2 separate regions of the Homo sapiens genome follow, and region 2 is linked to region 1. Evidence: fine-mapped expression QTL. A gene starts in region 1. The other region holds a variant in brackets. All regions are shown on one strand. Distances are between the middles of the regions.

Region 1 (2,754 bases):
TTATTTACCCTGTAAGGTATAAAGGGCAACTGTTATTCCCTGTGTTGCAGATACGGTGACCTCTGTGGAGCAGAGTGGTGAAGTGACCTGCTCAGGTGTCTCAAGGTTAGAATTTGGTGCAGCCTGACTTCAGCCTGGTCTGAAGGCCTACCAGGCTGGATTTCAATGAGAATTGTTTCTTTCTCTTTTTCTTTTCTCTCTTTCTTTCTCTTCTTTCTTTCCTTCTCTTCTTTCTCTCTCTTTCTTTTTCTTTCTTCCTTTCTCTCTCTCTCTCTCCCCCCGTCTCTCTCTTTCATTCTTTTTTTTTTTTTTTTGAGACAGAGTCTCACTCTGTCACCCAGTCTGGAGTGCGGCGGCAGGATCATAGCTCACTGTAGCCTCAATCTCCCAGGCTCAAGCAATCCTCCCACCTCAGCCTCCTGAGTAGCTGGGACAAAAGGTGGATGCCACCACACCCATCTATTTTTTTTTTTTTTTAATTTTTAGTAGAGATGAAGTTTCGTTGAGTTGCCCAGGATGGTCTCCAATTCCTGAGCTCAAGCAATCCTCTCTCCTCGGCCTCCCAAAGTTTTGGTATTACAGGTGTGAGCCACCGCTGGGCAGATAATTGCTTCTTTAAAGAGCCCGACACGGCAGATAAGCCTTGAAGAGAAAGGTACCTGTCCTCTCAGTGCTTCCTGCCACCTATTTGTCCGTTAGGCAATTCTTCCAGAATGAAGTTGAGGCAGGCCCCTGTAAAAGAGGTGGCAGCTTCAGGGACTCTTCTCCAGGGAACTGGAAGGGAGCGGAAGAACTTATTCTTAAGCGAAGGAGCCCTATCAGCGACCAAGCTCAATTGGTGGAAGGCCCCTTCCCCTAGCCCCAGTTGCATCTTCTGTCACTTCACCCTGCTCCTTCTCCTCAGAGCACTTTGGGCTGTAACTGGACGTTTGCTAGGTTAATTTACACCTGTTTCTCCTGGCAGGTGATAAAACTCCAAGGGGGCAGGACCCTGTCTTTTGTACACCAGTGCACACCCAAGTCCTGGCACGGTACTTGGAACAGGATAGGTAATCAATAAAGACTGGGTTGATAAAAGAGCACTTGGAAATCATGTGGGGCCAATAAGATCCGAACGCGGCCGAAGCTCTCGTCCTCGGGTTGCTGCAGGTGTGGTTCCCGGTGATGGAGGCCGTGGAAGAAGCCTTCCCTCCCTTTCCCGCCCCCAGGGCAGGAAGCCTGGGGGCTGAGCGGTCCTCCGAAACCGAGAGGCAGGTCCTGGGTGCGCCGGCGGTACAGCGGAGAGCGTGGAGAGACCCTCGCCGCAGCCATTTCCTGCCCTTTGTGTGACAGCCGCTGCGGCGAAGGGGCGGGCGCTGGGTGGGGGCGGAGCCGCGGCGGGCGGAGCAGCGGGGCCGGGGCGGGGCCGAGCGCGGCGCAGCGGAGCGGGGCAGAGCATCCTGCGCCCCGGCGCGGGGCCCTGCGGTAGCCTCAGGCCCCTCCCCTGGACCCGCCGCAGAGCCAGGTAAGCGGCCCTCGCAGGCCTCGGGCCGGGCACGGGGACTAGGATGCCGCCGGGGACGGGGATGAGGCCGTGAGGATGCGCGAAGGGCCGCCCCCTCTCCCGGCCCGCGGGGGGCGCTCGGCGCTGTGCCCGGGCTAGCCCGAGGCCCGGCCTCAGGCCCCACGCGGCCCCTTTCCCCCTCGGACCCACCGTGCGTCCCGCGGCACGGACCCTCTGCCCGGGAGGCGCGGGCACATCGCGGAGCTCCGGCGCGGCGGCGGGGGAGCCGCAGCAGCAGGTGCGCGGCCTGGGCCGGAGCCGCCAGCCCGGGAGGAGGCGGTGCTAATCTCAGGGACCGGAGACACCTGCAGCGGCCGCGAGCCCGGCAGCGGCGACATCCTCGAGTCCAGGTACTGCAGAGCGCTGGCCCCTGCCTCTGCCGCCGTGACCACCGTCACCTCCCCCAGGGCCAGCGAGAGCCGCCTGGGCCCGCCTGGCAGCCGCCTCGGGCACACAGAACGTGTGATGGGTGGGGCGAGGGGCGCAGCGTCGATGTTTGGGGGCGGAGGGCTTTGATGAGAGAGGAGCAGGTCTGACCCGCTTGGAAGCTTTCTGGCCTACACTAGCATCGCTCACCAAGCTGGCTGCGGGCACGGTGGAAGTGGGGGAAGGGGATGAGTGGGCTGACTCCTGGGGGAAAAGGTGGTTTTTTTCTTGAGCTCTGAAGAACCAGGAAGATGCTTGCCTGTCTGTTGTGGCGTCTACTTTTCAGGTCAGCCCTACCCCTCACCCCAAAGAACAGCCCACCTATGTGCAAAAGAAGAGGAGGAGGTGCTCTCTGCTTGGGGATGGGGGCAGGTAGCATGTTCCACATAAGTATGGCCCTCTATATCCAGAACCCGGCTGGAAAGGACACTGACAGCCCAGGTGCCTCCCCAGCACAGGGAATCTGATTTTGACCTTTGCTTGCCTACTTTCCCCAGCACAGTGGAAACACTCACCAGGGCTGATGAGCCATCAGCTGTCCTTCCAGCTAGGCCAAGAATGGGACAAGGATCTTTTTCTGCTAGTTCCTGGGTGCCTGTGCCCTCAGCATGGGCAGGGAGACGGAGGCAGGCCTGCTGGCAGGAGGGGCAAATCAGGAGACTGTCGGTTCCTGTGTTCCCATTTCCTGCCTCCTGTCTGTGTCCCAGTTAGGGCAGTGGGTCTCACCTTACTCTTGGATACAGGCTGTGCCAGCAACCTGGGTCCCTGAGATCTTAGAGGGCAAA
Region 2 (3,008 bases), 110 kb after region 1:
CTACCCAGAAGATTCTAAGTGGCCACTTGGAGTTTTAAAATCAGCATTCCCAACTTGAGACTTGTTAAAGGCACCCAGGAATCCTCATGCCTTTGTCCTATCTAGTGCTATAAGACTTATGAAGTAGAACACAGTGAGGTTGATATTAAAGAAGATGATTGCCTGGTAGGCCCAATGGCCACTCAGAGATGAGACCAGGCCTTTGGCAGCAAGGCAATCCTGAGAGGCCATAGCTCTGGTTTATCACCCATTTCTTCATTTAATAAGAAGTATTGCTCTATTATACTCTGCCTGTGTCCAAAGGAAGACACCATGCCTATCAAAGAACTGGTGTCATTAAGTCTGGAGACTCTTACACAGAATGAGGCCAAGGGGAAGGGCAGGGTGAGTTGCATGAGGCTCTCTCAGCCTGATTTCAGGTTGATTTCCATGGTCTCCACTGGAAACCATGTATCTTTGGATTCAGAAATCTTGGGTTCAAGTCTTGCCTCTATACTGGATAGCTATGAGACTCTGTTATATTCTCTAAGCCTAGCTTATCCAACCCATGGCCCAGGACGGCTTTGAATGCAGCCCGACCCAAATTCATAAATTTTCTTAAAACGTTGATTTTTTTTTGCGATTTTTTTTTTTTTTAGCTCATCAGCTGTTGTTAGTGTATTTTATTTTTATCTGTGGCCCACGACAATTTTTCTTCCAGTATGGCCCAGGGAAGCCAAAAGATGGTACACTCCTTCTCTAAGCCTTAGTTTCCACGCCTGAAAAGTGCTGGGACTGAGGAGCTACCTCACAGAGTTCTTAGTGTTAAGTGAGGTAATGAATGCGAAGTCTCCAGCGCTTAAGAAGCAGGTCCTCGGTTACCAAGAGCCCCCTTTCCTCCTCTTGCCATCAGCAAAGAGACTTGAATCGGCCTTTTCTCTAAGCCCCGTTAGAACTGAAAGCCTGGCTCCTGACTGCCCATAGCACTGTGGCCCACACTCCTCACAAGCCCAAGCCAAGGATGCCCCACTCCTTTCATATCAGCCACCTCATTTTATCCCTGATTTCATCCTCCTCCTGAATGGGATGGCACCTTTCCTCCCAGTTCAAAACCCTGCCCCTCCTCTCAGGCCCATCTCACAGCCATCATTTCCTCATCCTCCACAAACCGCTGGTCCTTTTATTCAACACACATTTTATCAAATGCCTTTCTCTGCAAGGAACTTGGTGGTGTTTCTCTCTCTTCTCAGTCTCCAAAGCCCTTTGTCAGCAACTTCTCCTATTGCACCCAATTGATTCTGTTTTATTTCTCAGTCACGGGTGTCCTTGGATCTCTTCTCCACTAGATGGTAAACTTCATTGAAATCTCATTTTTACAGAGCTCTACCTGTTGTAGTGTTTCCCACAGCATCCAGGCCCTTCCCTGGCTCCATGGTGTGTTTCATCTTCATCTCTGTGCCTTTGAGTTGTCTGCCAGATCACAGAGCAAGCACTCA[A/G]TAGATATTTGGTGACCTAAAGAAAGGAATAAAGAGGTAGCAGCAAATGCAGAGAAGTGGCATCTTCCCTATTTCTGACTTGAAAGGTGTCTTTTTATCCCTGTTTAGGTTGTATGCTAGTAGACATGGAAATGTTCAGAATTTATGTATTCCCTTGAACTCAAGGAGCACTTTGTGCTGTTTTTCTCTTGGGTCTCATATAGTCAGAGGAACTGAAGTCTCCGGAAGGGTCTTGGTCACCCTGAGAAGCACCCACTTATGCAAACCTTGCACTTGCACAGTTCCTTTCCCCTGGGGTCAGCCTCCATCCCATGCTGACTTCCAAGCTCAGATCTACTCTGCAGACTCTGCAGGGCCTAGGCCTCACATCTAGTTGCCTTTTAGACATCTTCTCTTCCGTGTCCACACACATCAGAAATTTACCTTGCCTGAATCTGACCTTGGCTTCCTCCTGCCTGCAGCCTTGCTGTTCTCTGACTCCATAAACGGTACCAACGTCATACAGGTGCCCTGGGCAGGGGTCCTTTTACTCCCGCCCTCAGGTCCAGTCATCAGGTCTCTGGCCTCTGCTCACTTCCTTCTATCTCCTTTGCCGCTACTCCTGGCCCTGCTTTCTCCTGCTTGGACTCTTCCAACACCCCCTTTGCTCTCCCCAATCCTTTCTCCCTTGCAACCAGAAGGTGAAACTGCAGCTTGGCCATTTCCCTGATGAAAACCATCAGGATAATGTCTAGAAATCTAAGAGAGGCTTAGAAGATTCTTCCCAAACCACTCCTGCCCACCCCTCCTTCCTGTCTCACATCACTTTCCTCTAGCACTGAAAGCTTCAGTCTACCTTGGCTCTCAGCCCTGCCCTACTGTGGCCTCTTGCTTTGGGGCCTTTGCAGGTACTGTTCCCCCTTAGCTGTCCAACACTCACCCCTGGTTCAACTTAGCGTCCTTCTTCAGAAAGTCTTCCCTATCATCCTCCCCAAAAGTCTGAATTGGTTGCTCCTCTTTGCATCCCCATAGACCCCAGGCATACCCCAATTGTAGCACTTACTAGAATTGCCCATTCTAGTTTTGACTTATTTTGTCATCATCTTGGTAAGGGTTGTGCATCTGGTCTCCCTCACCTACTCCAGCACCTTGCAGAAAGCCTTGTGCCTATTATTTGCTATATAAATGAAAGAATGACAATCTCTGGCTCAGGCTCTATTCAAGTCAGAATGAAAGTCTTCAGAATTTGGTACAACCTTGTTGGGTATCTAGATCCTATTATACACATGTTCTCTGTATTCTTGCTGGCCTCTCATATCATGCCAATGAGAAAAATATAGAGAACGTGCAGGTCCTGCACATGGGTTGTCCCTCAAGAAGATTCTCAATCAATGTTTACATGAGATGTGGGTCACTGCCCTGGTCCTCCATCAGCAGCTCAGATTTCAGGACCCTGGGCTAGATAAGACAGCCCAATGTGCAGATGGCTTAGTGGAAGCCCTGAATGAATAAAAGCTCTGGTAAGTTTTTAAAAAGCAAAGGCACTGTGGGCTG

Which allele goes with the higher level. Positions count from the first base shown, and alleles are read on the strand shown. Sizes are in standard deviations (SD) of each study's normalised expression.
For the expression in unexposed skin of the gene that starts at base 1,432 in region 1, allele A in region 2 goes with a lower level than allele G (small effect, 0.19 SD a copy in GTEx).

What was found. PIP is the estimated chance that this variant, and not a neighbour inherited with it, causes the effect. A credible set is the group of variants that fine-mapping cannot tell apart.
Region 2: its variant is the best candidate, but not a certain one, in a credible set for the expression of CYFIP2 in unexposed skin (GTEx, PIP 0.53).

What each region holds. Positions count from the first base shown.
Region 1 is chr5:157,264,692-157,267,445 of GRCh38, forward strand. It overlaps CYFIP2 (cytoplasmic FMR1 interacting protein 2), which reads left to right and starts at 1,432. Exons shown (of 31, transcript NM_001037333.3): 1 at 1,432-1,504. RefSeq lists a silencer at 1,339-1,858 and an enhancer at 2,539-2,648.
Region 2 is chr5:157,375,016-157,378,023 of GRCh38, forward strand. All of the region lies in intron 26 of CYFIP2 (cytoplasmic FMR1 interacting protein 2), which reads left to right. All of the region lies in intron 1 of NIPAL4-DT (NIPAL4 divergent transcript), which reads right to left. Among named protein-coding and RNA genes, the nearest start is that of FNDC9, 31 kb to the left of the region's middle. The variant A/G (reference allele first, on the strand shown) is at 1,476.